Linked DNA regions of Homo sapiens. The protein of the gene in region 1 purifies or fractionates together with the protein of each later gene. This does not show direct contact. Each region holds a gene or a part of one and is shown on either strand. Other genes may lie near its edges. The genes, in order: CD36 and MATK.

Evidence for each region.
Region 2: the proteins of CD36 (region 1) and MATK purify together in Homo sapiens (affinity purification with western blotting, with the first as the bait; one study listed by BioGRID). This does not show direct contact.

What each region holds. Positions count from the first base shown.
Region 1 is NC_000007.14:80,676,486-80,679,942, reverse strand, and holds the end of CD36 (platelet glycoprotein 4), read right to left. Parts: 3' UTR 669-3,457; downstream 1-668.
Region 2 is NC_000019.10:3,777,348-3,780,626, forward strand, and holds the end of MATK (megakaryocyte-associated tyrosine-protein kinase), read right to left. Parts: intron 2,451-3,279; coding exon 2,351-2,450; intron 2,271-2,350; coding exon 2,186-2,270; intron 2,105-2,185; coding exon 2,031-2,104; intron 1,841-2,030; coding exon 1,645-1,840; intron 1,249-1,644; coding exon 1,162-1,248; intron 1,076-1,161; coding exon 836-1,075; 3' UTR 626-835; downstream 1-625.

The DNA.
Region 1 (3,457 bases):
CACATTCCAGCAAATCAAAGGAGTATAAAGTTTAATACCACTTCACCCTCTACTCTGCCATATAGATTAGCTTTATTACTGTTTGAAAATATTTACAAGCTCAACAGGGCAAATTATAAAACTTAGTGGGATATTTATAGCAACATTTTCAGGTCTGATGAACTTCCCCCTCATCTCAGTATGTTTATGTCCTTCTGTTAATACATCAAACTAATACCAGCAACAGGTCAAATAAAACTCTTACAGCTAGTCAAACTTCAGTGACTTAAATCAGGGCTTTTCCAAAATTTCGAGTGTCTATGAATTTCTTAAAGATCCTGTTAAACTGTGGATTCTGATTCAGTGGGTCTGAGGTAGAACCAGAGATTCTGCATTTTTAACAAGTTCCCAGGTGATGTTGAGGCTGTTTGTCTAAGATTCATGTAATTAAAGGAAAATTTTAAAATATTTATATTTATCCTATGTCACAGCCCCCTTCATGAGTATGCAGAATGAAACGTTTTGCAATGTGTAGATTGTACTACTAGCATCTGGGAACAGTTGGAAAAAGGAAATAGGAGTGATATGTAAATAAGTCATGAAAGGATAATAGCTCATATAAAACTATAGTAACAATATCAAACAATATGGAAGTCAACTACATTCAAAAATAAAAATAAGCAAAATCATTTTTCTAATAACAAAAGTTTTTATTTTCACAAATATTTTAAAATGCAGCTACCTTTGAGCCACAAAAGGAAAAAGCAGTATTCCTTTTATGTATTTGATACAAATATTAAACATAACTCAGTTTTAGTTCATTAGCTCAGCTCAGTGAAAATAGCTCAGGAAAAAAAAAGTCATAGGTAATGCTATTGGTATATGCAGGAAACCAGAAGCGACGACATTGAGTTCAAAATCCATTTAGAATTGTAGACAGGCCACAAGGGGCAGGTGAAGAGAGCAGCCACAGAGTCACTAATACATTGGACTTCAAACAGAAAAACTGAAATGTCAGTTGGTACACACCTAAAACAAACTCCAACTAGAAAGATAATTATGTAGCTCAGACATTGATAACAGGTTAAGAAATTTGTACGTGCATACTGTTTTTTTTTTTTGAGATGGAATCTCGCTCTGTCACCAGGCTGGAGTGCAGTGACGCGATCTCAGTTCACTGCAACCTCTGCTTCCCAGGCTCAAGAGATTCAGTCTCCCGAGCAGCTGGGACTACAGGCATGGGCCACCACACCCCGCTCATTTTTGTATTTTTAGTAGAGATGAGGTTTCACCATGTTGGCCAGGATGGTCTTGATCTCCTGACCTCGTGATCCACCTGCCTCCCAAAGTGCTGGGATTACAGGCATGAGCCACCATGCCTGGCCATGTATACACATCTTAATACAAATATTTTCAGAGATAACCATTGCGTGATAGCTATTTTTTTTCTTGAAATGATACCCTCCTTCACCCTTTTCTGTCAGAACTGAAAGCTACATAGCTTCTTCTATTTCTTCATGCACTTGTTAGAAGCAATATGCATTAACCTATTTTCCGATGCTGTTGATTCTCTAATCTGTTAATCCATTTGCAGACGCTATTGATTTTCAAACTTAAGTTATGAATACCTGCTATAATTCTGTGGTTAATAACCAGCTTTGGAAAGAAAATGTGCTTCTATCAAAGGGTACAATTTTTCTATGACTAAAACATATAAATTCATCCATGAGCAATTGCAAGTGTCCAAACATTTACCCTTTCTGAACAACATTAACTTCGCCAGGGCAAAACAAAGTCACACATGTAACATATTCCCCAAGTTGCCCCACTCCCACCACAGTGCATATGTGCACACACACACACACACACACACACACACACATCCAAAGCCCAGATTTCATGTAAAAAAAATCTCCCCTTAAGTAATTATTTTTCCTACTGCATATTTTTAATCTCGTTGTCTTTGTATATGAATTGTCTTTCCTCTTATATTCCTTTTACAGAATTTGAGAAATGAAACACTGAGGAATGATAAAGATTATACATGTATTCAAACAATATTAAAGACATATAGGTCAAAACCTTTTCTGATATCTAAATGCTATGAGATCATCCCTGTATTAAGATCTGAGTCATGATTAGTCATAATATACAGGTCAATATGTATATTCTCATCCAATTATCTTTAGAAGTTTCTACATTATATAACTCAGCCCTACATGCCTCAATGATTAAAAAACTTTCCTTTATATTAGATGGACATGTCCACAAATATCCTAATGCAAATAGAATAAACCTTGTATTATCAGAAGAACATGTCTACAATGTTATCTTACATATTAATATCTTGGACAGATACTTCTTTTATCTTCCCAGTTAAAAGGAAAGGCACTAAGTATGCTTTAAGCACCTTCAGAGATGCAAAAGATCTTTCCAAACAGGTAGATTCTTGGTTTGTGGCTTTTCTGTAGTAATGCTCAACATTTACTCTGGCGGCTATCATAAGGAGGAGGCTAAAAGTTATTTTCGATTTTAGTATCCAAACAGGCCAGTTACTATTCCTTTGTCCTGTATCCTTCTGTGGGTAAAACACAAGCTAGAATTTGGTTTATCTTCCCTTTCTATGCTGGAGCTTTTTAGGAGAACTAATGCTCTCAGAATAAGTGAACCCCTGCTCAAGAAACAGAGTTACCTATTAATGTGTCTCCTTATGAAAAAGGAAAAACCTTTGCAATTGTCCTACTGCTGTAAAGGATGAAACCAAATGTCTTTTTGTTCTTCATCCAATTAGCTTAAAAAATTAGCCTAGAACAAAGTGGTAGAAATTTAGAAAGCATATTTCAGCAAGGACTATGGATTTATAAAGAAATGTGGATTCAGATAAAATATACTTCAGAGAGAAAATTAGGATAAACATTTTATGACACAAGAGGAACTAGAAAAAGCACAGGAATTTAAGGAAGAACATATTTTAATGGTTGAAACCTGTCTTTATGAGGCGATTATGACAGCAAAAAATATTATAATGAATAACAATGCATAGTCTACGCTTTGTAATATTTCATACAATAATTCCTTTATCATTTACATCTCTTAATGCTAGAAAAGCATTCTGAAGATGCCAAGCGTAAGTTGCAACTGAGTAAAAAAAAAAAAGCAAAATTTACTCAATTTCCAGAAGAGGTGCAGAACAGAGAATGAAGGTCCTTAAAATATAAACCGCTAGTGTGCTAAAATGATGTCCATTTGCAGGATCAGTGACAAAATATTTAAGCCCATAAAGAAAAGAGTTATACCTGCTGTATGAAGGTATTCATAGAGAAATATGAGTCATAAGCCAATTATTTATAAATGTCTTTCAAAATATTTGGTGCACATGAAATGCAGTATACTGATGGTCCTGGAGACTGTTGCAGTTGAATAGGGCAGCTACTGGGATGATGGTGTTTCCCCCGGATGAGGATGACAGGAATGCAGG
Region 2 (3,279 bases), on another chromosome or scaffold:
CCACACATGCAGACCCTCCTGGGGCTCCCATCATGGGGGCTCCCATAGGGATATGGATGGCTGGGGCCTGAGAAAGGGCTGTGGTGGGAGGGGAGACTTGGACCTTGAGGGCTGTTGGCAGCCTCCCAAGATCCTTTAAGCCTGGGACCCCATGGGTTGGGAAAGGGTGCCCACCACTGAATACCACATGCCCTGGGGGACTGCAGTGGGGAACCCGTGGGTAATGGCAAGTGGGTCCCCTGCCCAGAATCCCCCAGGGAACGGTGTCCCCACAGTGGCCAGCAGGCAGGTGCCAGCTGGGCAGATCCTCCATGGGCCAAGATGGGGAGGCCCCCGTGTGCAGGCATGTGGCCACAGGAGGCAGGGGCTTGGGGCCGGTGGGTGCCCAAGACTCGGCCAAGGATCAGTGGGGTCCCAATTAATTGATCCCATCATGTGGGCTGCAGTGGGTTCCACAGAGTAGGAAGGTGACCACTGGGGCTGGGGCACACAGGGCATCTAGGGGGGGTGGACCTCTAAGGGAGGACCCAGGATGCCTGGCGCCTGGGGGTGTCCGAGAGCAGATCACCAAAGGTGGCCCCCGGGGAAGAGGGCACGGGGACACAGAGACACACAGGCGCCTAGAGTCCTTAGAATCCGTCTTTATCGGGCGATCATCCTTCGCAGGTCTGGGGTGTCCACGGGCCGCCCAGAGCCCCCTACGTGGGCCAGCCCCTGCTGTGGGCACCAGGAGGATGACTTGCCCGCCTGGACCCTCCTTGGGCCTGGTCAGTGCCCCCACGCCGCACTCTCCACTCTCTCGGTCCTCTGGGGCCAAGGGCCCCACCGGGTGGGGTCAGGGCTCCTGGCTTCGGGGCGAGGTGGAGCCGTCGGCGTCCTGCCCTGAGACGGAGGCTGGGGCACCTGCACTGCGTAGCTCCCGGGCCAGCTTCTCGGCCAGTTTGCGGAAGGGTGGCCGGCGGGCGGGCTCTGCCTCCCAGCAGCTGCTCATGAGGACGTGCACGGGGCCTGGACAGCCCTCGGGGGGTTCCATGCGGTACCCCTTCTCCACGGCCTCCGACACCTCTTTCAGTGACTGCGGACAGCAGGCGTGGGCAGGGGTCAGGGCCACAGCCTCTGGACCTGCCCGGAACCCAGTGCCTCCCTGGGACCCCCGCTCACCATTTTAGGGTACGGAGCCCGTCCATATGAGAAGACCTCCCAGAGCAGCACCCCAAAACTCCAGACATCCGACTTGCTGGTGAACTTCTGTGGGGCCCGAGACGGGGGTGAGGAGGGACCCCTCAGGTTTTCTGCTCCAGCCCCTGCTTCCTCCAGGAAGCCCTCCTGGGTTGACCCTCACTCTCTGGTCTTCTCCTAATTGAGTCCTCCCCCAACGCCGCCCGCAGTTGAGTCTAGCTCAGCCTTAGTGCATGAAGGAAGCCTGGTTATTCTTCCCTTCAGTCCTGAGCCCACGCCTTTTTCAGAGCTGGAGAAACTGAGGCCCAGAGGGGGGCTACGAGGAACAATTATGGGCCAAGAGCTTCCTGGGGAGGCATAGCCATTGCCCTTGGAGTTTCAGAGAGGCCAAGGGACATACCCAGGGTCATACAGCAGAGCTGGGGGGACCCCAAAGCCCCAGGGGTATGTGAAGGCAGGGCTCACCCCGTGTTTGAGAGCCTCGGGCGCCGTCCACTTGACGGGCAGCCGGCTTGAGTCTAGCCCCTTCCGCTCGGCTTTGGCCAGGCCAAAGTCGCTGACCTTGGCCACCAGGTCCTCTGAGACCAGGATGTTGCGGGCGGCCAGGTCGCGGTGCACAAGCTTCTTGCTCTCCAGGTACTCCATGCCCTCGGCCACGTGCCTGGGGGTAGTAGGGGGCAGTGGGGGCTCAGGTGCCAGGATGCCCACATTCAGGGCTCAGAAAGCTCGGGGTGCCTGGGGCCACAAGCTCACAAAGCCTCCCTGCCCCGTGCCTCAGTTTCCCCTTGATGGATCTTGGAATCTGCGCCCCGACGACCCCAGTGCCGCAGCACCCTGAGAGTCCCACTTACAGAGAAAACTGCAGGAGCTGAGCGGTGTTCACGAGGGCTCGACCCCGGGTCCGCAGAAAGTTCACCAGGTTGCCCTGTTGGGGGTGGGAGATGGCCGCGGGATGTTGGGGCTGCTCCGCTGCGTGGGCCCCCTCCCCGCCTGGGCCCCGCCCCACCTTGCTCACGTGCTCCATGACAATGTACAGCCCCTGGTGCAGGATCACGCCCAGGAGACGCACCAGGTTCTCGTGTTGCATCTTCCTGGGGGCGGTGGGGTGGGCGTGAGGGCAGGGCTGGGACCCCCCCCGTCCCACGGTCCCCAGCCCCACCCTGGGACTCACGTCATGACGGCCGTCTCGTCCAGGAAGGCCTGGGCTGTCACATCACACTTGATATTCTTCACGGCCACCTTTTGCCCCAGGTACTCACCCTGCAGGACAGCTGGGGGGTGGGGGTGGGGAACGGGGTGAGATCAGGACCCCCAACAAACAGGGACAGAGAGACAGACGGACAGGCCCGCTCACACCGGTGCCCATGTAACATTCACACAGCTGCGGGTCCCCAGACCTTGAAACACAGACCCCATGCTCCTCACCCCTGCCGCCCTTGCAAGCTCCAGACCCAAGATCAGAGAACCATCTGGCTCTGGCGCGGTGGCTCACGCCTGTAATCCCAGCACTTTGGGAGGCTGAGGCAGGCGGATCACCTGAGGTCAGGAGTTCAAGACCAGCCCGACTAACATGGAGAAACCCTGTCTCTAATGAAAATACAAAACTAGCCAGGTGTGGTGGCACATGCCTGTAATCCCAGCTACTCGGGAGGCTGAGGCAGGAGAATCACTTGAACCCGGGAGGCAGAGGTTGCAGTGAGCCAAGATTGTGCCATTGCACTCCAGCCTGGGTGACAGAGCGAAACTCCATCTCAAAAAAAACCCCACAAAAAACAAAAACAAAGAGAGAACCATCTAAGCCAGGGGTCTGTGAACCCCCACCCCCTCGGGGCCAAATCTACCTATCACCTCTTTTTGCAAGACCCTTCAGCTCAAAATGTTTTTTGCATTTTTATTTTTAATTAATTAATTATTTATTTGAGACGGAGTCTTGCTCTGTCGCCCAGGCTGGAGTGCAGTGGCGCCATCTCTGCTCACTGCAAGCTCTGCCTCCCAGGTCACGCCATTCTCCTGCCTCAGCCTCCCAAGTAGCTGGGACTACAGGCGCCCACCACCACGCCCGGCTAATTTTTTTTTTTTTTTTTTTTAGTAGAGATGGGG